3 linked regions of the Homo sapiens genome follow. The protein of the gene in region 1 interacts with the protein of each later gene in a pairwise test. Each region holds a gene or a part of one and is shown in the gene's direction. Other genes may lie near its edges.

The links. Proteins that work in one complex are often made in the same cells at the same time.
Region 2: the proteins of TRAPPC6A (region 1) and LHX4 interact in binary tests that used the Homo sapiens proteins (3 or more experiments, as listed by UniProt).
Region 3: the proteins of TRAPPC6A (region 1) and TRIM35 interact in binary tests that used the Homo sapiens proteins (3 or more experiments, as listed by UniProt).

Annotation. Positions count from the first base shown.
Region 1 is NC_000019.10:45,167,878-45,175,366, reverse strand, and holds part of TRAPPC6A (trafficking protein particle complex subunit 6A), read left to right. Parts: intron 1-7,489. UniProt on the Homo sapiens protein: May play a role in vesicular transport during the biogenesis of melanosomes.
Region 2 is NC_000001.11:180,232,981-180,240,469, forward strand, and holds part of LHX4 (LIM/homeobox protein Lhx4), read left to right. Parts: intron 1-7,489. UniProt on the Homo sapiens protein: May play a critical role in the development of respiratory control mechanisms and in the normal growth and maturation of the lung. Binds preferentially to methylated DNA.
Region 3 is NC_000008.11:27,301,067-27,308,555, reverse strand, and holds part of TRIM35 (E3 ubiquitin-protein ligase TRIM35), read left to right. Parts: intron 1-3,712; exon of another isoform or gene 3,713-3,795; intron 3,796-7,489. UniProt on the Homo sapiens protein: E3 ubiquitin-protein ligase that participates in multiple biological processes including cell death, glucose metabolism, and in particular, the innate immune response.

The DNA of each region.
Region 1 (7,489 bases):
CAAGCTCCGCCTCCCGGGTTCATGCCATTCTCCTGCCTCAGCCTCCCGAGTAGCTGGAACCACAGGTGCCCGACACCACACCCGGCTAATTTTTTTTTTTTTTTTTGAGACAGAGTCTCGGTCTGTCCCCCAGGCTGGAGTGCAGTGGCGCGATCTGGGCTCACTGCAAGCTCTGCCTCCCGGGTTCACGCCATTCTTCTGCCTCAGCCTCCCGAGTAGCTGGGACTACAGGTGACTGCCACCACGCCCGGCTAATTTTTTGTATTTTTAGTAGAGACAGAGTTTCACTGTGTTAGCCATGATGGTCTCGATCTCCTGACCTTGTGATCTGCCTGCCTTGGCCTCCCAAAGTGCTGGGATTACAGGTGTGAGCCACCGCGCCTGGCAATTTTTTTTTTTTTTGTATTTTTAGTAGAGACGGGGTTTCAATGTGTTAGGCAGGATGGTCTCGATCTCCTGACCTCATGATCTGCCCACCTCGGCCTCCCAAAGTGCTGGGATTACAGGCGTGAGCCACCACGCCCGGCTGATTTTTTTTTAAAGAGAGTCTTGCTCTGTCACCCAAGCCGGAGTGCAGTAGCATGATCATAGTTCACTGTAGCCTCACACTCCTGGGCTCAAGTGATCCTCCCACCTCAGCCTCCTGAGTAGCTAGGAGTACAGGTGCACACAACCATACCCTGCTAATTTTTAAATTTTTTGTAGAGATAGGTTTTCACAATGTTGCCCAGGCTGACCTTGAACTCCTGGGCCCAAGCGATCCTCTGGCCTCAGCCTCCCAAAAACTCACACCTGGGATTACAGGTGTGAGCCAGCACGCCCTGCCAGGATGCGTCTGAATTGTGTATCTGTATGATCCTTTAATTCACATGCGTCTCCCCCAGCCGGAGTGTACTTTGTGCGGGATGGGCCTGGGTGTGTATTGATGACCACTGGATGTCCTGGCTCGTAGTGGGTCCTCAGTGTGGACGTGTTGAGGAGGTGAATGCAGAGCCTGTGCCGTGGCAGGTGGGGATGGGTGGGGACTGGGATTCATTTGGCTTATGAGCAGTGCTAGCTCTTCCCTCCCTCCCCTCATATGAGTGCTTCCTGTGTGCACTCATGGCTTCTCACTCTTGATTTCATTTGATCTTCTGATGACCCAGAGAGGTTGGCATGGTCCTCCCCGATTTACAGATGAGGCGGCGGAGGCTTTGATGGACGGAGTTCCTTGCTCTCAAGTGGCAGAGTCAGGAGCGCGACCAGGCCTCCCACTTCCAAAGCCTGTGCTGTAAACTCTCACTTGCATTTCCCAGCATTTGCCCTGGGAAGGATTTTAATGGGTTTCTGTGGTCAAGCGAGTGTGGGAAACTGGCTTACTCAGCTCTGCTCACCACCAGCCTTTCAGAGCACACGAATGTGCCTGGGACCTTGGGCAGGGGTTCCCTACCCAGCTGCCACTACATTCCGATGCTGGAGTCCCACACCAGAGACTCTGACGAACCCGGTTGGGGTGAGGCCTGAGTGTCAGGCCTCAGAAAGCTCCCAGGTGGCTCTCGCTGCAGCTAGGGGTGAGAACTGCATCGTTTCCCCTCACTCCTTCCTCCTGGGGAGCCCCGTTTTTCAGGGGGCCTGTCATGAGAAACGGCTTCCTCAGTCCTTTCTCTTTATTGGCCCCACCTCCTCTCTCCATTCCTTCTCTTTGGCCCAAAAGGGTTCCTCTGAACCAGACAGGCCTCCCGTTTCCTGAGGGCGTCTGTGCAGTACTTGCACAGTGTTGACTGCATTTAGTCCTCAGGACAGCCCTCCCGATTCACAGAGGAGGGACCCTGTGCTTGGTAGAGGAAGGGATTTCGAGGTGGTTCAGCAAGACTCAAAGGCAAAATTAGAACTCAGGCTTCTGGCCCCAGGGCTTCTGGGTAGCGCAGGCCGCCTTTCCCACCAGCTTCAGAGCTCCTTGAGGACAGGGATGGTGGCTCCTTCATCTCTGTCCCCACAGCACAGGTGCCCAGGAGCCACAGCCAGTGTGTAGGGCTTTTGTGACCTCCTATCCTGCCTGGTACGGTGGTTATTTGTGGCCATTCTCCTGGGCTGTCACAGGTTGTGAACTGGAGGACCGGCCAGAGGGGCCAGGAAGGCCTTTGTTCTCTAAGGAGGAGAAGCCCTTGGAGGAAGCAGCCGTGGCTTTTCTACCTCAGAGGCTTTGAAGACAAGGGAAGCCTTTGGGCAAAGAGAGGATTCCCCTGAGTGCATGTAGTAAAGAGCTAAGGCGCTGTCACCCATTGTCTGAGACCAGGCCCGAGGCGCCCCGAGAATAGCCCTGCTGCGCCAGGCCTCCATCCACCACACCCCGAGAGTGCACTTGGGCAGCCCCTTATCTGAGGAGGGTGTGGGGCGGGCGGAGCGGCTGTCAGATAGGTCCCTGCCCGGAACACCGTCCTGAGCATCTGTGGCTGGGAGCTCCAGCGAGGCCCTCCTGGGAACTGGGGCTCCATCCCGAAGGCAGTGGGAGCCATAGCCGGGTTTAAACTGAGGTGCGCCTGGCTCAGATTTACATTCTAGAAATGTCTCCCTGGCCACAGGAATGGACTGGATGGAGATTGGCCTGGGAAGGGCCCCGCTGTTGCAGGAGCTTAAGGCAGAGGCTGTGGTGGGCTCAACCTTCCGGGCTGGGCCAGGGGACAGGATGGGGAGTTCTGAGTGGGCAGAGGCAGGATCTGGACTTGCTCAGGATGCCTTGCTGGACCAGGGAGGAGAGTTGAGGGCAACAGCAGGGAAGTCCTGCAGGCTTCTCGCACCCACCCCTCACTCACCCATCTGTGTGCCAGCACTTCTGTCTGTGTGCTTTTCTTAACCAGGGCTGCTCCTTCCCTGGGTTCCCCACCACACCCCTGGGCCTGGCACAGAGTGGCTCAGCAGGTGGGCGTTGAACAGGGTCAGCCTCTGCCCAGGAGCTAGCAGGTGCCTAGAGAACAATCGAGGGGTAGGGCAGACACAAGAGACAGGAAGGGGTGGAGCACATGGCCCCCACCCGCCTCCCTCCCAGTTCAGGGCAGAATGTTCTCTTAAAGGCAAAATTAGAACTCAGGCTTCTGGCCCCAGGGCTTCTGGGTAGCACAGGCCGCCTTTCCCACCAGCTTCAGAGCTCCTTGAGGACAGGGATGGTGGCTCCTTCATCTCTGTCCCCACAGCACAGGTGCCCAGGAGCCACAGCCAGTGTGTAGGGCTTTTGTGACCTCCTATCCTGCCTGGTACGGTGGTTATTTGTGGCCATTCTCCTGGGCTGTCACAGGTTGTGAACTGGAGGACCGGCCAGAGGGGCCAGGAAGGCCTTTGTTCTCTAAGGAGGAGAAGCCCTTGGAGGAAGCAGCCGTGGCTTTTCTACCTCAGAGGCTTTGAAGACAAGGGAAGCCTTTGGGCAAAGAGAGGATTCCCCTGAGTGCATGTAGTAAAGAGCTAAGGCGCTGTCACCCATTGTCTGAGACCAGGAGCTCCCAAGTGTCTAAAGGGGCTTTGGTTTGCTTTTTCCGTTCATCCTCCTTGGAGCTCAACCCCTTGGCTTCAGTCTGGACGTGTGAATCTTCCTTTAGCTCAGGACATTTTTCTCCTGTGATCTCTCTGATGATTTCTTCTCCTGCATCGTTCCCTGTATGTCCTGTAGGCACCACAGGGAATATTAGACTTCCTGCATCTCTTCCAAGCATCCTGTAGCTTTTCTCTCATTTTTTCCTCCCTCCTGTTTTTCTTCTGGGAGGTGTTATCTGTCTTACAGGTTTCTCTGTTATTCAGTTCCCTTGTTAAAAAGTGTTGATTTTGGCCACCATATTTGTTCATTTCCAGGAACTCTGCTTTGTGTCTGATTGATCCTTCCTGTGTGGTGGATGTCATTAGCACCGACACTGATAAGACTTCCCTTCCACCTTTCCTTTCATCCGGTCTGTGTGTAAACTCAGCAGAGGCAGGCGTGGGGAGCCCCAGAAATGCACCGGCTCTGGGCTGGGCTCTGGCAGATTCATATGAATGGGAGAGTCTCTGTCTGGCCAGCCCTTCTGTTTTGTTTTGTTTTGTTTTGTTTTGTTTTGTTTTGTGACTGAGTCTCGCTCTGTCACCCAGGCTGGAATGTGTTGGTGTGATCTCAGCTCACTGAAACCTCTGCCTCCCGGGTTCAAGCGATCCTGGTGGCTCAGCCTCCTGAATAGCTGGGATTATAGGCGTGCGCCACCACGCCCGGCTAATTTTTGTATTTTCAGTAGAGACAGGGTTTTGCCATGTTGGCCAGGCTGGTCTCAAACTCCTAACCTCAAGTGATCCTCCCGCCTTGGCTTCCCAAAGTGCTGGGATTACAGGCAAGAGCCCCCGCGCCCAGCCCCTTCTGTTTTTAAGAAAGATAAACCCCTAACCTCTGAAGAGCTTTTGCAGTGACATGGGCATGGACACCACCAGGTCTCGCTGTGATGAGGTGGGTGGAGGCTTCTCCCTTCCTCCTCCGCCCTTTCTTCCCTGCCTCCTGCTCCTCCTCGGCCCCTCCCTTTTGCTGTGATTCCCCACAGCCCTTTTCAGTTCAGCCAGGATCTGAATGGCCCCTGTCCAGGGCTGGGTACAGTGGGGCCAGCAGTCACACAGCCGTGTATCCAGCTGTTGCCACCTGCCAGTCACACCACCACTGTGAGCAGGTACTGCCATTAGCCCCATGGCACATGTGGGGAAACTGAGGCACGGGATGGTTGGCTAATCTGCCCAAGGTCACAGAGCCAGTGAGTGGCGGGGCCGAGATTCAAACCCAGGCAGTGTGAAGTTCATGAAGGGAAAAGCTGAACTTGCTGGAACCCCTTCAGACTCCACGCTCCTGGCCTGGCTGAAGGACCCTGCTGACTCTCTCCCCCAGCTCACCCCTCCGGGGGCTGCCGTCCTGGCTGTGACCTGGGCCTGGTGTGCCTTCACAGCCCACTCCTGCTGTTGAACTCCCCCTCTTCCCTCAGGCTCAGCACAGTCGGGGTGCTTCCTAGGGGTGGGAGTGCACCCTCGCAGCACACCTGCCTCCCTCTTGGCAGTCGCTGTGAGCATAGTGAAGCCGGCCATTGCACCTTTGCCCATTCCCCGGGTGAAACGCCAGCTCCAGCAGGGCAGGGACTGAGTCTGTGGCCCACTGTGGCTGGCATTCAGGCAACGTGGCCTGCGTTGACCCTCAGGTTGGCTGCACTTGCCTGCAGGGGAAAATGCCCCCTCTGCAGCCCACTCTGAGGGCCCCTTCCCTTCCCCGCCTCTCACCCCTGCCTTGGCACATGCCCTTTGCTTGGAATACCTGCCACCTCCGGCCCCCTCCTGGAGGGCAGGCTCTGCACTGCACTGCCCGGGCCCCTTGCACTCAGTCTCCCAGCCCTTCCCAGATTGTCAGTTGGCATCATTTGGGCACCTGTCAACCCTGCCAGGCAAGGTAGGTGAGCTCCTGGAGGACACTAGGAAATGTCTGTGGCATGAATGAGGGAGGGACATAAAGGAGCCCTTAGCGAGTGGGGACACAGACGTGTTCCACCAGAGTGCAGCCTGGCCCTGCCTCTGGGAGCTTTGCTGTGGACACAGACGTGTTCCCTCAGAGTGCAGCCTGGGCCCTGCCTCCAGGAGCTTCGCTGTGGGAGGAGGTGACACGGGAGCCGCAGCTACCAGGCAGCGAGCTCTCGCCCGGGCTGTTCTAGGTGCTGGCTACAGGAGCCCACAGAACAGACCCCCTTCCTTCCTGGGGTTCTCCTCCAGCCAAGGGCTTCATCCCTCATTGGCTGGGGCCGTCTCCTTGTTTGACAGATGTGGAGGCTGTGAATGCAATAAGTAAGGCTCCCGGAACTGCCTTGAAGTACTCAGGTTGCCTTTACCAACCCTTACTCCTTGTGAGGATCCTGGAGGTAGCTGCCATTAATATTCCCCTCCTTTGGGCTGGACGCAGTGGCTCACACCTGTAGTCCCAGCTACTTGGGAGGCAGAGGTAGGAGGATCACCTGAACCCAGGAGGTAGAGGCTGCAGTGAGCCAAGATCGTGCCATTGCACTCCAGCCTGGGTGACAGAATGAGACCCTATCTCAAAAACAAACAAAATGACCCTCTTTTTTACATGAGGAAACTGAGGCACAGGTATTCAGCCATTGGCCCAGGTCCCACACTGGTAAGTGCTGGGGCGGATCTGGACCCAGGCGGTGGCTCTGCACCTGCGCCGCTGGTAGTGCTGCCATGAAGGACCCACGGGCAGGGGTCTCTTCCCACTCTGTCTCTCACACACACCTGCCCGTCTCCTGCAGTCATCGGCCCCTTCCATGAGCCTCTGCTGTGTGGCCGGCCCTGCTGTGCCTGAGGACACTGGAGGAAAGCAGATGGTGACACCAGAGGGAGACAGTGCAACAGGAAGCCGTGTCGTTGTCACCCATGAGGGCGAGGCCTGGCAAGGGGCCAGGCAGAGGAAGGGCCACCTTGGCTTCAGATATGGGCGACCTCAGCTCAGGCCCCCCCGCCATTCCCAGCGCTCCTCACCTCCGTGAGGCCCTCAACAGCCATGGCTGTCACCCCACCCACCCTCCTATCTGGACCTGCTGGGGTGTGAAAGACAGTCCCGTGCTGAGGGTGCCTTGGATGGGTTCTTCTTAACCTCAGAGCCCCTGTTTCCACCTGGAATTACAGCCTTCTGTGAGGCTGGAAAGGTAAAACAAGAAGGCTGTAGAAAACGCCTGCCACACAGTATGCCGGTCCTGGAATAACATTTTGTTGTGACATTGATGAGGAAAAAATAATGATTCCCGGGACCATTGTCTGGGTGGTGGTTGTGGGTTCTCCCTGTGCTGGTGCAAGTTCCTCTGGGCTCTCCTTTCCTTGTGCATCCTTGGGATGTGTCCGCTGGGTGAGCTCCCGGGTCTCCGTGGGCCCAGTGTGAGTGAGTGTGGGCCCGTGTGCGCCCTGTGATGGGATGGCGTTCTGTCCAGGGTCCATTCCTGCTTTTGGCCCTGCCAGGACGGGCTCTGGCCACCCAGGACCCTGAGCTGGAGGAAGCGAGTAAATGTCTTACTGGTTTTTTGTTTTTTATTTATTTTTTAAGACAGGGTCAGGGCCGGGCGCGGTGGCTCACGCCTATAATCCCAGCACTTTGGGAGGCCGAGGTGGGTGAATCACGAGGTCAGGAGATCAAGACCATCCTGGCTAACATGGTGAAACCCCGTCCCTGCTAAAAATACAAAAAAATTAGCTGGGCGTGGTGGCGGGTGCCTATAGTGCCAGCTACTCAGGAGGCTGAGGCAGGAGAATGGCGTGAACCCGGGAGGCGGAGCTTGCAGTGAGCCGAGATTGCGCCACTGCACTCCAGCCTGGGCGACAGGGCGAGACTCTGTCTCAAAAAAAAAAAAAAAAAAAAAAAAAAAGACAGGGTCTTGCTGTTGCCTGGGCTGCAGTACAGTGGCATGATCATGGCTCACTGCAGTAGCGACCTCCTGGGCTCAGATGATCCTCCTGCCTCAGCTTCCCAAGTAGCTGGGAC
Region 2 (7,489 bases), on another chromosome or scaffold:
GTTTGCCTCTTCATCACATGGAGTCACCACGAATGGAGCACTTGGGGACGCAGGTCTAGGTGTCCCCAAGCTCGGTGCCTCTAGTGCCCTCCCCTCTAGGGGCATTTTAGAAGAAGTGATTTAAATCCAGCTTATTTCGGCGGCAGCTGGACTATTCCTTTGCTTATTTGGGGATGGGTGAGGGGCATACCCTTTAGGAAAACGTTTCCAAATGATGTAATAATTTCTCTCTCATCTCTGGTCTTGCTCCAGACTTGGCCTCTTCCTCGCCACTCTGTCCCGGCCTCCCGCCCCCGCAGGCTCCCGTGCGGACTTAGCAGTTCGCGCCGTAGCCCTCCTGGTTTTTTACCGCGCCTTGGTCGCGCGGCCCCCGGTGCGGGCCTCGTCGCTCCGACAGCCCTACAGCTGTCCCTACGGCCCGCACCGACAGCTCGTCCCCGCCACCTCCCTCCGGGCTGTAGGGACGTCGAGATCCGAATCCTCACAGCGCCTGACCCGGGGCCGTGTTGGGTACGGGTACGGCGAGAGCCTTCCGAGCCGCCTCCAAAACTCTCCCCGCGGACCTCAGCAGTCCCTCCACGCGTCGGGGCCCTGCTGGCCGGCCATGCCCTCTGAGGAGACGCGGAAAAGAGCGAGGCATATAGGAAGGTGGGGCGTTTTATCCGCCTCGGTTTTGACCCATCTGCCATGTAGTCTCCCCAGGCACCGAGGGAAAGGACGACGGAAGCCCGCCGCCCGGATCGCTGGCGGGAGAGAGGGCAGCCCGCACGGGAGAAGGAGGAGCCCCGCGGGGTCTCCGCTGGGGGTGGTAATTGGAATGCAGGCCTGGGGGTCTCTGTCCCCCTCCTTGTCTCCTAAAATGCTTCCGGCAAGCTCTGGCGAACCCCGAAGCTGTAGGAAAAAGGTATTTTATTTTGTGTTTGGTAGGGTCGGGGTAAAGGTTTTCCCTGGGACTTCCTCTCCTGGGGCTCCTCCGGGGTGCGTGGGGTAATGTCCCAGCGCAGGTCGAGTTGCAGATCCGAGTCCCCGGGGTTGTTGACTGTCCTTCTTGCAGGACATTTCTTAAGGGGGTGAGATGGATTCACTGTCCAAGACAGGAGTTCACTCAAACGCTGGTGCTGTTCGCTCTTCTTTCCATTCCTGCCTTGTCTCCTAGTGCGAGAAACAGACACACACAACACACACAAATTATATATATATATATATATATATATATATATATATATATATATATATATATAATAGATTGAGATTCTATCATATTCCGAACATTCCGATATAGCAGCTGTAGGCACCATAGACCTCCCTCCCTGCGTCGCGAGAATATATTCTCAGGCAGGAGACAATTTTTACAGATGAGGTCAGCTGTCCCCGCCGGCCGATTCGGGCCTGATGGGTTGGGGGTTCCGATGTCCTAACTGCTAGGATCCCGTTCCAGCCCCTGGCCAGAGCTGTGTACCACAAAGAAGGGAGTTTGGAGAAACCCGGGTAAGCGCGGCAGCGCCCCGCTTGGGACAGCGGATGGCTGAGGACTCCCAAGGGGCGAGAGGGCTCCGGCCTCCTCCTTTCCAGGGCCTTGTTATCTGAGAGGGCCGTTAGCACGGAGGGAAGCTTGGAAAGCCGCTGTCCCAGTGCGCTCCGCATGCGGAATTAACTGTTAAAGCCGGACACGGAGCACGCAGGTGCAGCAGGTGAGGGGCAAAGGTCTGCATTGAGCAGTCCGCAGTGTCCCGGGAAGTCGTAAAGTCGGGACTGAGAAGAAGCAGGACCTAACTCAAGTTTATTTCCTCTCTTGGCCGAGGTCCGGGCTCGTGGAAAACCAGAGCTAGGCGGGGCTACGCAGGGCTGAGCAGGAGTGGCGTCCTAGGGTCTGGGAGCGCGACCCACATGACCTCGCTACGACCGGGGCAGGGCTCCTCCGCCCCGCGGGCAGATGCCGGCCTGGGTGGCCCGGGGAACAGACGATGAATTCTTTAAATGAGCGTTTGCTGCGCACCCATGGGCGGCTCACGATCCTGGGCACTCGCCCGGGAATCCCGGGCGTGCTCTGGGTTTTGGGGGACTCGCCGGTGGAGGTAGATGTGGACAGGGCGGCCGGCCCTTCGCGGGTAGCCGGCTTTGCGCTTACTGCGTCCCGCAGCGGTGGGTAAAGGTCGTAGCCCAGAAGGGGACAAGGGAGGGACCGCCTCTCTCTCCCCGGTGCGCTGCAATAGAGGTTCCTGCGCCTTGGCCCTTGCAGTCCATCCGCCCAGAGGTTCGCGCCCGTTTTCGGAGCTTATTATCTCAGGTAGCCCAGAGGTCCGACTGAGCTGGAATTAGCCAGGCCTGGGACCCCTTTGCTGCCCTTTAGAGTGGTGGCAGGGACTTTTCCAGCAAGGATAGGCGCGGCAGGCGCGAGTGCGGACGGCGCGCCCATTAGGAGGAGGCCGGGTGAAAACCTCTCTTCCTCTCCAGACCCATTTCGTTCCAAGCATTTGGAATGACAAAATTAAACCCCAACCCTGGCGGCTCGAGTCTAATGTGACTGTTTAACCCTGGGAAAGCGATGCTCCCATTTTCGAAGGGGCTCCTCCTCTTCGGAGCGGGGAGGCCGCCGGCGGGTGTGCCCGGCCCGCGCGTTCTGCGGGTGTTCGAGCCTCGGCTCCCCACTCGGTTCCGCAGCTTAGTGGACCTTGACGAGCGCTGGAAACGTGTCAGGCTCCAGAGAGACAGAGTCTCTACCTAGGCGGCTGAGGATGTCAATTAAAATCGACCAGGGAAGGGAGTTGGCGGCACTGTGCGCCGCCGGGGAAGGCGAGGTGGCGCGGGCCACCGGGTGCACTCACCGCACGAGAGGCCGCGGCTGGACTGGGACCGAGCGCATCCCTGTGTCTCAGGGGGTTTGCTTTGTGCAGGATGGGACCTTATTATTTTTAGACAGTGGGGCAAACGTGTCTTTTAAAGAGATCCGAAGGGTGAAACTAATGAAAAAGGAAATGAATTACTAGAAAAGCCGTGAAGGGATAAAACCGGGAGCAGCAGGAAGTTGAAGGAAGGACGACCGAAGCTAGGTGTATCTGCACCTGCCTCTTGACACGCCAAAAACAAAGGGGGGTTAAGGCAAGAATGTAGACTAAATGCTGTGAGGATTAGGGTAACGCGAGCCCTCAAGACGTCTCGGAGACCGCCTACAGGGCTGCAAATACCAGGGTCCATTTTTAAAAATCGAGTGCTCCTAGAGGTGGGGTGGGGGTGGGAGAGCCGGGAAACCAGCAAAGCAATTTCTTTCCATTGAGTAGACAAAAACTTGGGCCACAGGGGCATCTTGTATTTTGAACAGTGACCCGATGACCCCGCTGGCCAGGTGTAGACAGCCTCAAGTCCTAAATATTTGCATTGTCCTAACTTCCCAGTTGCCTCGGATTTTAATGCCCTTTCACTCTGCGTTACAGTCAATTAGTGATTACTTAGCATCCACATTAGTAGACTGAAGCCAGAGACCCCAGTGCTGGGAGGAGAGGAGGAGCCGGGGGAAGGAGGATGGGGCTTGCAGTCCTGCAGGGATGGAAAATTAGTTAACAGGAATTAACTGTTCTTTCTATTACCTTGTTATGAAATCTGCTTTGAGCTTCTTGTTTTGGACGGGAATGGTGGGTATTTAGTGGATTTCTCTGGCTGGGAAACTTGTGTCCTCTTCCTATTGAAGAGTTGTGGATGGGGGGCGGGTAGGTGGAATCGGATAAAGGGACCTTGTGCCTTTTCTTTCAATTAAGGAAATTTTTCAGGAATAGAGCTGAGGAGCTTTGGGACGCATAGGGACTTGGAACCAGTTTAGCTGAAGAGAGGACAAAAGGAGTAATATTACCCACTTTGAGAAACCCACGGTTGGAGACAGACTGAAGCAGCAGTTTGCTGTGGCAGCACCAAATACATGGCTGCATAGACGGCTGAATTTGGAGAGGGCTGGCTGGGGTGCCGTTGAGGCGATTTTACTTTTGTAACAATGTTTTGCCTTTCTCCCTTCCTGGAATGAGTGTTAACAATGCCCATAACAGAGATGTGGGCAAATAGGGTCCACTGCTTTTAGTAAAATTCCATCGCGGTCTGGTGGCTTGAATTTCTCTTTCTTCCTCCCTCCTTCTCCTTCCCCTGTTCCCCCAATTTCTTCTGTCTATCCCTTCCTTCCTTTGCAAAATCTTTGCAGGGAGAAACATGGGATAGTGCAGGAATTCACGACACAGGGGTTTTACTCGGCGGGGGGGGCGGGGAGGAGGGCGGTCGTGTGTCCAGCAGGCTGCACCGTGGTGGAGCCATCTCTCTTTCTAGGCGCCCTGGGAGGGAAGCACAGGTGCTGGGTATAGGACAGAAGCCGCCCTGGAGCTGGGCTCTTATTGTCTGTGGTAGGAAGAAATCAACTAAAATTAGATGCCACTGTGAGGTTTTACCTTATTTAGTCCTCAATTTTATAGGATCCCTGATCAAAATGGAGCACAAGTCAACCATTTTGAGGCATTGCTTTTGGGGGTAGGTGGACAGGTTGGGTTTAATTGGTGAAAATGAAATGGATTCTCCCTTGGAAAATGGACTTTGGGGTTAACTGTATGAGCGGCTGACTGGAAAGTCGTCTTGGGAGGTGAGTCCTACCTCCTGCTGTAATTTTGGTGGATTTCTTTTCTCAGATCTCCCCACCCTGTTCCCTCTGTCAGTCTGGGTCTAGCCACAGATGTTTAACTGCAGTACCTCACCCCCACATGTCTTTAAAGTATAATTTGCTTTAATTATGATGTTAGGGGGTTAAGAGATTGGTTCTGGGAATAGCTTAATAGAGACAAAACTTGCAGCCAAATTAATTGAAAGTTTCTTGCTATGAGGGAAAGATTGCCAAACATATGGAATACTGTTACAGAGTGAGACATTAGAAAAATACATTGTAGAGATTTAGCAATGATTAAATGTGAAAATGGAGTGGAAATAGACGTGTCTACAACATTTCCATACACAAACATGGATTTGCTTAATGTAATTTTCTGTTTTATTTGCAATTACTGAGATATATGATATCCTACTGAAGAATACTAATTACGTGACAATATATCACCTAGGAGATAATCCCTGCAAATACATATTTACATTGTGTATTTCATTTGTTACTCGACTCCTTATGTTAAAATATCCAAATTACAGCCTTAAAATGATAACATCGAAATTATCTCCAGTTTACTTTTGAATTTGTTCTTTTATTGAAGAGGTTTCTATTTTTGACTAAGCCGAAAAAGAACAAAGGAGATTTTCAAAGGCACCCCAAGCCACCAAATAAAGCAAACAGTAAAAGTGGGAAGGATTCCGGAAAGCAAGTGAAGGGAAAGGACAGCTTCAGGTGTGATCATTTCTGATGTAAGAAGGATTTTCTGACTTTTTTTCTGGTTGCTAGTCATTTGTCAAGACAAACTAGAAAAAACTAGAAATTAGATAAAAAGACGTGAGTACACTGATGCATTTTAAAACATGTCAGTGCATATGATGATAGAGAATATGATTTACCTTCAATGCGATGCTAATTTTTAAAATTAGAATTTTTCTAATATTTTTGTGGCTGGCCCAGCTCTCTTTCTTTAATGCTGCTGTCATCATTGATGTTCAATGTGCCTTTTCTCTTTATGTTTTAAAGAATTAATGTTGGAATTTTGTGCTTTAGCTGTGTTATGTGATTATTACTAGGTTGTGAAAATCCCTTAAGAGGAATTTTATAAAAACATTTTGGAAAATTCTGTTATTGTCTCTTCAAGATACGCTGATTTAGAATAAGTGAAAATATAAAAACGAGAACTATAAACGGTTCAACAAAAATGAATGTTCTTTAATGACAAAGAGCCAGGGTTGGGGGGCGGCACACACCAGATTTGTCATGGAAAACTGAGTCGTGGGCCTCAGGTTTTCCCTGCGTGGGGACTGCATGGATGAATCAGGCCTTCTTCCTTTGGTCACAATTACCAGGTGATTTAAAAGGGGAATTGTGACCAGAAAACAGGATTTTATCATCAGCGGTGATGGTGGCTACTTTGAAATGGAAAGTTTTATTTTTGAAATATTTATCCAGTAATAGACCTCTTAGTTAATTTAATTTTAATGTAACTATACCTCCGTTATAAATCTTTGACCTGGACATTTCAGAACTCAGGTATGTGTTTAGGCAGGTGTGCCACAGCTTGGTATATCCTGTAGCTTCACCTTGTTGATGCATTTTAGAATTAGTTATTCCCCGACTAAATCAATGAGCCCCCCACTGACAGTATTTCCCAAGCCTGCCTTTAGAAAACCATCTTCCTTCTTTCTTACTCAGGGAACCTGAGGCAACAGAACAGCAATGTCTGCAATTTGTTGTTTTCTCTTCCTTACATGTGGGAAAGGAATGGAAAATTTCAAGAAAAACATTTGCATACTATTTCAGTTGCATATGTGATTCCTTAAAGCCCCATTTGGCGTCTCCTTTCAGTTAGTAGTCAGTAAAGAAACTTAACAAATAAATAAAATTAAACGTTTTTGGAAATACATATTGGCCAAATGTTATTTGAGACAGAGCTCAAAAAACTGCTTACTTCTGGAGGGAAATCACCAGCAAAAAGGTTTTGGGCAAAAATCCCAGATGGAGGTGGCTTTGATTGAGCACAGGTGGAAGCCATCAGACCCAGAGTAAAAGAAGGTTTAGTCCTAATTCGGCCTCAAACTGTGTACCCGTAGGGAAGCCCCTTATTCTCAGAACCTTTTAAACGTAGACAATGAATGTCCGCTTCACAGGGTGTCTGGGAGGAGGGAATGAGCTTGCCAATTTGAAAGTACTTGACCAAGTTTGGAGTGCTGGTGGTCTTAAGGCACTCAGAGACTGGGATCACAGCTCCCATTTCACAGACACAGCCGCCCCTGGGAGCACTGCTGGCTGTCCCAAGAGGATGGCCACCTGAGGGGGAATACTGTGGGGTCTGCAAACAGGGAGACCCGGAAGTGGCTCCCATGGACCCAGCTCCTTTTCTCGAAAGGAGCAAGAAAAACCTTGTCCTGAGCATTAGGCTGTCAAGTCAAAGCATGAAACAAAAAGAACACTTCATCCAGAAGGCAGTTAAAAAGCAAAGGGAGTTAAAAAGCAAAAGCCTCACAGGAGGCACATCAAGCTGGCACATCAAAGTACAAACTTTACAAAATATTAATCTGGTCTCAGAGCATCGTTAAATAAACATTATTCCCTTTTAAAATTATTATAATAGAGGTAGGGGCTCACTATGTTGCCCAGACTGGTCTCGAACTTCTGGGTTCAAGTAATCCTCTCACCTTGGCCTCCCAAAGTGCTGGGATTACAGGTGTGAGCCACCGTGCCCGGCCTAAACATTCCTATCAGTACAAAGTTTTAAAAATATTTAAGTAGCACATCAGCATTATGATTCCAATGGAAAGATCTGAAATTCTGACTCCTTTCCCCAGAAAGGTGCCTTTTCTTAAATATATTTTAGAAGTCATT
Region 3 (7,489 bases), on another chromosome or scaffold:
GGGGGAGCGGTATGGGAAGATTCCCTCCACCACTTGGTAAGAAGGGACTGGGTAAGAAGCTGTGTGCCTCACTGAGGGGGTTTTCCGTTTTGTGCTGTGGGGAGCTCTGAAAGATTCTAAACAGGGGAGTTTGTGATGGGATGTGTGTTTTAGAGAAAGATTACTTTGCCAACTATCTATGTGAGGAACAGCAAAGTCAAAATCATCCCAGCTAACACATTTCAGTGCTCACTGTGTGCTAGATGCTTTTCAGTGTTCACACGTCAACAAATTTAATGCTCACAAAAACGTATTTTCAGGTCCTGTGTTTCCTGTTACTGCGTAATAAATGTGGTGGTTTAAAATAGCACAAGTTTGTTCTCTTATGGTTCTGGAGGTTGGAAGTCCTAAAATCGAGGTGTCTGCAGGGCTACATTCCTTTTGGAGGCTCCAGGGAGAATTTATTTCCTTGCCTTCTCCAGCTTGCAGAGGCCCCTTCTTCCAGCTCTGAAGTGTGTCATTCCGTTCTGCATCTGTTGTCACTTTGACTTCTTTGACCAGTTCTACTACCTCCCTCTCATAAGGACCCTGTGATGACATTGGGCCCACCCAGGTAATCCAGGATAACCTCCCCACAGCAAGATCCTTAATTTAATCATCTGCACAGTCCCTTTTGCCATACAAGATTCTGGGGATTAGAATGGGGACATCTTTTCGGGGAAATAATTATTCAGCTTGCTACAGTTAGGTGCTATTATCCCCATTTTATAGACAATTATAGAATCATAGAGAGGGTAAGAAACTTGTCCAAAGTCACAGAGCAAGTAGCTCTAAAGATCACCTGGAGCCTTGTTCAGTTCACACACTGGTCCTGGACTTTGAGAGAGGTTTCTCTCATCTCAGACTTCAGCGGGCAGCTGACTGTGTGTTAGGGGTTGGAGTGGCTGTTGACCATTGTCAGGGCTGGCAGAAGGTACTGGTTGTGTGCCAGTACTGTGTCCAGGACAGGACCGGACAGTCCTAGACCTTGCCTTTGTGGGCATGGTTGTATCATCTCACTAATAATTACATAGTTTCAGCTCAACATTCCTGTGAAGGACAGTACAGGATGTGGTGGGAGATTGTAAGGGGGAGGCTGCTCTTGTTTGGTGGGGTGTGGGAAGGAGTCTCCAAGGAAGTGATTTCGCTGAGAGGAGCTGATTGAGGGGCGGCGAGCAGTGTGTGTGTGTGGCGGGGGTGTGGCGGCGGGGCACAGCGTGGGGGTGTGCAGTGACTGAGAGATGGTTCACGTGGGGATGAGGAACTGCAGGACAGATCCCACAGGACACAGAGGGCCCTGCTTAGGAGCTGGGATTTTTATCGTAGGTGCAGTGGCGCATGATGGAAGGACTGATGAGATTTGGGAGCCTGGCATCATGTTTACAGCAGAGCTGTAGCAAGGAACAGTGCTTGGAAGGACCTTCAGAAATCCTAGTCTGGCGTTTCTCAAACTTGAACAAGTATGCATTCTTCTTAAAGGAAAAAATAGTCTAGCCAGTGAGAGTTAAATTATGTTATTATTTACATGCATACAAATGCAAACCTGGTATAAATAGCACTTGCTCATGCTACATATAAGCAATAAAACAAAAGGAAGTGAACAGACTGAATACAAAACTATAATCAATAACATTCCACTTAAAATATTAATTCTAAAGTTTTATTTTGCTGGAACAAAATCTCTACTCCTGGCCAAGATACTTCTGATTCTCCCATTACTCTGTTCCAAGTGACTACTTAATCCGCCCAAATTTCTCTGAAGAGCTCTGGAGCTTTCTTGTTACGGGATTGGCCTTCATTTGGGTCCGGCACATTCTTTACCTGCTATGTGTATTTCTCTTCTTTCCTTATCAGGACAAGACGATGAAAGTCATGTCTTGATATCAAGTAAGCTGTTAAGAAAATATGAATGGTGGCCGGGTGTGGTGGCTCATGCCTGTAATCCCAGCACTTTGGGAGGCCGAGGCAGGCAGATCACGAGGTCAGGAGTTCGAGACCAGCCTGGCCAGTATGGTGAAACCCCATCTCTACTAAAAATGCAAAAATTAACCAGGCATGGTGGCAGGTACCTGTAGTCCCAGCTACTTGGGAGGCTGAGGCAGGAGAATCGCTTAAACCCGGGAGATGGAGGTTGCAGTGAGCCGAGATCGTGCCACTGCCCTCCAGCCTGTACGACAGAGCAAGACACTGTCTCAAAAAAAAAAAAAAGAAAGAAAAAAAGAAAATACGAATGCTGATGATGAAGTTGTGAACTGAAAGCATGTGTCAGCGCTGTTTATGTCGTGGCTTGGAGTAGGATTGTCTTAGGTTTGGTTTAGGTTGCCATTAAATGAAAACATCCTCAGACACAGACCGTGCGTCATTCTATTGTGATGGAATGGTTACATCTTGTGAGGAGGTGGTTACATCTAAGTAATGAGAAGTGGATCAAGGCCAGTGTGTTTCATGCCTGTAATCCCAGTGCTTGGGGAGGCTGAGGCAGGAGGATTGCTTGAGGCCAGTAGTTCAAGATCCTGCACCAAAGAAGAAAAAAATTAGCCGGGTGTGGTGGCACATACCTGTAGTCCCAGCTACTCGAGGGGCTGAGATGGGAGGATTGCTTGAGGCCAGGCATTCGAGGGTGCAGTGAGCTATGACTGGGCCACTGCATCCAGCCTGGGCAACAGTGTGAGACCCTGTATCTTACATAAATAAATAAATAAAGTTCTAGGATCAGAACTCAGGTTTCCTGCCTCCCAGTCCAGCACTCTCCAGCTTGCATCTTCTACAGCAGCCCTGTGCTGAGCTGCCTTGTGCAGACCCTTGTCTTATCCATCTTGCAGGACTGGCATGATGACCATTCTTTGCCACCAGCCTCTCCCTGTCCCAGCTCCAGCCCTCTCTCCCCTTCTGGCGTCAACATCTTAGAGTCCATCTGGCTGGATCTAACCCAAGGGTACTCTCGATACCTCTTAAGCCACATTCCAGGTCTTCCCCCTTCCAATGCTTTTCCCCATTTCCTAACCACTCACCCCCATCCTGATCCCCAGCTTCTAGGTGAGGACTTACCAGCTCTTTGGTTGCACCAGAGGACATTGTTGCTTGCTTGCTTGTCCAGGCCTGTGCCCAGTGGTATTGGGAGTGGGGGGTGTCTCACTAGACCCTGCACACTGAGGCTCCTGAGTGATGGCCTCCAGCAGTGGGCTGCATGGCAGACACTTGCTTTGGAAGGAGGTCTGAACACAAAGGGGAAAGACAGATCTGGGAGACTGATTTGGAGTTGCATAAGAAAGCTCCATGCATTTTTACTGTTCATTTAAGAAACCTGGACCATATCCAGCAGGACAGTTAGGTTACCTGGCATGTAGGTGGCACTTAAGAGCTATGCCGAATGCACAGCATGTGCCTGCCACTCTCATGTAAGCATCTTATAGGGATTGATTTGTGGAGTCCTCACAGCAGTCCTTTGAGCTTGGTAGTATTTTTTATCCCTCTTATCCAGATGAGGAAATGGAGGTGCAGAGAAGTGAAGGAACATGTTCAAGATCACCTGCTACTAGGTAGAGGTGCTGGGATTTGAACCTGGTCGGCCAGGTGCCAGAACTCTTGGCTGCTACATCAATCTGCCTGAAAACAAATCGTGAAATTTGGGAGACTGTAGAGACTTCTCTGCTTTCATTTTTAAGGTGAGGAGCCTGATAGCCGAAGAGAGAAGGAACTTTTTACCAACTCACCAGTGGATAGTGACAAAGACAAGGCTCCAAACCAGCTCTCCTAACCTTCAGTCCAGGAGGCAAGGTATATAGCAGAAAAAACACAGGCATTCCATGTACTCATTGACTGGGCAGGTGGTTAACTGAACATCTACTTTGTGCAGGGACTTGGACATGCAGGGGACAAAACAAAGTCTCTCACCTTGCAGAGCAAGCATTCCTTCTGCAGAAGTGTACCGAGCACCACTATGCAAGGTAGAGAGGACCTGGAGGTTAAGACCTGCCCTCAGGAAAGAGAAGCTATTACCCTGGATAGTGAGTGCTGAGACAGAGGTGGCCAGGGTGCTGTGATGCCCTGGAATGGAACCTGAGCTGGCAAGATCGGGGGGCTTCCTGGAGGAAATGAGGGGTACTAGAGCCGAGTTTTCAAGGTGATGTTGGGTTAGTTGGGGGAAGCAGGTGGGAACCAGGCAGAGCAACAGTGTGTATCAAGTCTCACAAGACAGAAAACCTGGCTCAGGCCAGACAGAGCTGGTTTCACATGCAACTCTAGCACTTTGGTAAGTCCTTGCAAAGAGGCTATGAAGACCTTGTGCAATGAAATTCATTCTTTCCCTTGCCCCTACCTTCCTGCTTCCAGCTATACCACAGAGCACCTGTCCTGTTAATGAAAATTGTGGGTAACGTGATTTTGTAAAGTGCTTAAGATCTTCAATATGCAATTGAAATTTGTTGCTTAAGGAATCAACTTGTCATTTTTGGGAAATCATGTAGTCTATATGATCACATTCTGGATCCTTTAGTATGAATAAAAACCTATTTTGTGTGTGTTTATAACTAATCTTTAACGTAGGCTGGACGCGGTGGCTCATGCCTGTAATCCCAGCATTTTGGGATGCCGAGGCGGGCGGATCACCTGAGATCAGGAGTTCAAGACCAGCCTGGCCAACATGGTGAAACCCTGTCTCTACTAAAAATACAAAAATTAGTTGGGCATGGCGGCAGGCACTTGTAATCCTAGCTACTTGGGAGGCTGAGGCAAGAGAATTGCTTGAATCTGGGAGACAGAGGTTGCAGTGAGCCGAGATTGCGCCACTGCACTCTAGCCTGGACAAGAAGAATGAGACTCTATCTCAAAAAAGTAAAAAATATAAAATAAATAAATAAAAAATCTTAATGTTATAATGTGATGCTAACATCGAAGCTTGTTTGCTCTCCTGAGCTTGGGCTGGGGGATGCTCCAGATCTGTTGTGGGCCCCTGCTACTGCCCATCTCTGCTCATTCATGTGCTCCTTGGGCTACAGGCAGGCCCCTTGAGTGGTAGTTCTATTTGTAATCTAAGCATATTTAGGGTTAAAATTAATACCAAAAGCAAACAAAATAATATTGTTTAGATGCATTCAAATTCACACTTCTTACATGTCATATTTCCTAGGTGAACCACTAGATGCACAGAAGGGGAAAATGGAATAAAAAATGTGTAGTAAATTTTAAAAAAGGAAAGGAAGAAAAAGAAAAATAGAATAAGCAAGACAAATAGCTCAGAACAAGGTGGCAGATTTAAATGCAAACATATCGGTAATTATGTGTTAAATACTCCAGTTAAATGAAAATGTTGATCTGACTGGATAAGAAAACGAAACCTAATTCTGTGTTGCTTAATATAATTATCTCAGTGAGAAAACATTTGATAAAATTTACCATCTTTTTGTGTTTAAAAAAACAGGAAACTAGAAATGGAAGGAATTTCATTAGTTTGATTAAGTATATCTAGCAAAAAAACTTACAGCAAATATCACATTTAATGGCAAAACATTGAAAGCTTTCTTATTGAGATCAAGAAAAAGACAGGAATGCGCATTATGACCAACTCTATTCAGTTTTGTGTGGGATAGCCTTGTCAATGAAGTAAGCCAATAATTATAAATAAAAGATGTAAGGTTTGGAAAGAAGGGAAGCAAAACTGGCATGTGTAGATAATATGGTTGCATATTTTTGCACTGAGATTTCTATGTGTAGAAAATAAAGATTCTACAGTTAAATCATAAGTATTAATAAGTTTAGGTGAATGCTGAATCCAAAATCAAGATGCAAAACCAGTTGTATTTCTATGTATCACTAGCAAATAGAAAATAAAATATAGGCAGGGAGTTTTACACCTGTAATCCCAGCACTTTGGGAGGCTGAGGCAGGAGGATCGTTTGAGCCAAGGAGTTTCAGACCAGCTTGCACAACATAGTCCAGCCTGTCTCTACAAAAAGTTAAAACAAATTAGCCAGGTGTGGTGGTGCATGCTTGTAGTCCCAGCTACTTGGGAGGCTGAGGTGGTGGGAGGATCACTTGAGCACAGGAGGCTGCAGTGAGCTATGATTGTGCTACTACTGCACTGCAGCCTGGGTGACAGAGGGGGACCCTGTTTTGGGTTTTTTTAATTTAAAAATATGTTTACAATAATATAAAAAATAAGATAACTAGGAAGAAATTAATAAAAGATACGCAAAACTCTGATAGGGAAAAATATACTTCGTTGAGAGCTATCAAAGAACATTAAGTAACTGGTGTGATATATTATGTTCGTGGATTAGTAAAGTCAGTATTTAAGCCTTTCAGTTTTCCCCAAATTGATCTATAGAGACAATATTGTACTAATCTAAATCTCAACATGATTATTTTTATGCAACTTCACAGATTCTAAAATTTATATGACCCTCAAAGGGCCAAAAATTGCCAAGACATTCTTGAAGAGAAACCTATCAGAAATCCTCTCTTTTTTACAGCTATAGAAATTATGGCTGTGTGATGTTGGCACAAGGATAAACAGATGGGCCAGAGAAACAGATGGAGAGAACCAAAAAACAGATCTGTGTCTGATTTAAGACAGAGGTGGCTCTGCAGACCAGTGGGCAGTAATGGTCTTTTTAAATAATGGTGCTGAGACAATGAGCTACCTGGTCACACCATGTGCAAAAATAAACTCCAGGTATCCACATCAGACCTAAATGTGAAAGGAAAGCTATAAAGCTTTGAGAAAATACTACAGAGCTATACAATAATAATGCAAAGCTATAAAGCTTTGAGGAAATAATACGATTGTTTTTGTGATCTCAGTGTAGGGAGGTGTTTCTTAAAACTAGTATACTAATCCTAAAGGAAAAGACTAATAAATTTGGCCATATTTCAATTAAGAAAGATAAATGATGAAGTAGAAAATATTCATTACACCTCTAACTAATCAAGGACATACATTGTGTATATATAATAAATTCCCACAAACCAGTTAGGAAAATGGCAGGCAACGCAATGGAAAAATGGACAATACTTTACTGAGTACTTAAAAATAAACATTGAAGTGGTCAATAAACATTTTCTATTAACATTGCTCTTGCTGTAAAAATTGGTACCACTGCTTTGGAAAACAATTTGGCATTACGCAGTAAAGTGAAGACACATATGGTGGCCCAGCAGTTTTATCCCCAGGAATATATTATGAAGAAACGAGTTCCCATGTGTCCCCAGGAGACATGTACAAGAAGGTTACCTCCTCTGGGTCTAACTTGATCCTCTGTATAATGGGACTCACAGTGCTTAACCTTATAGGGAGAATTCGAATTAAATAATTGAATTAAATAGAATGTTTGTAAAGTGCATAATTTAGTGCCTTGTGTCTAGTACATGCTTAATAGTAACTGCTTGCTAGCAATAGTAATATAATTGTTGGTTAGTCTCATCAGCTGACATCTCAGAGAAGGGCCATTTTAGGATTGGTCTTTTCTGAAGG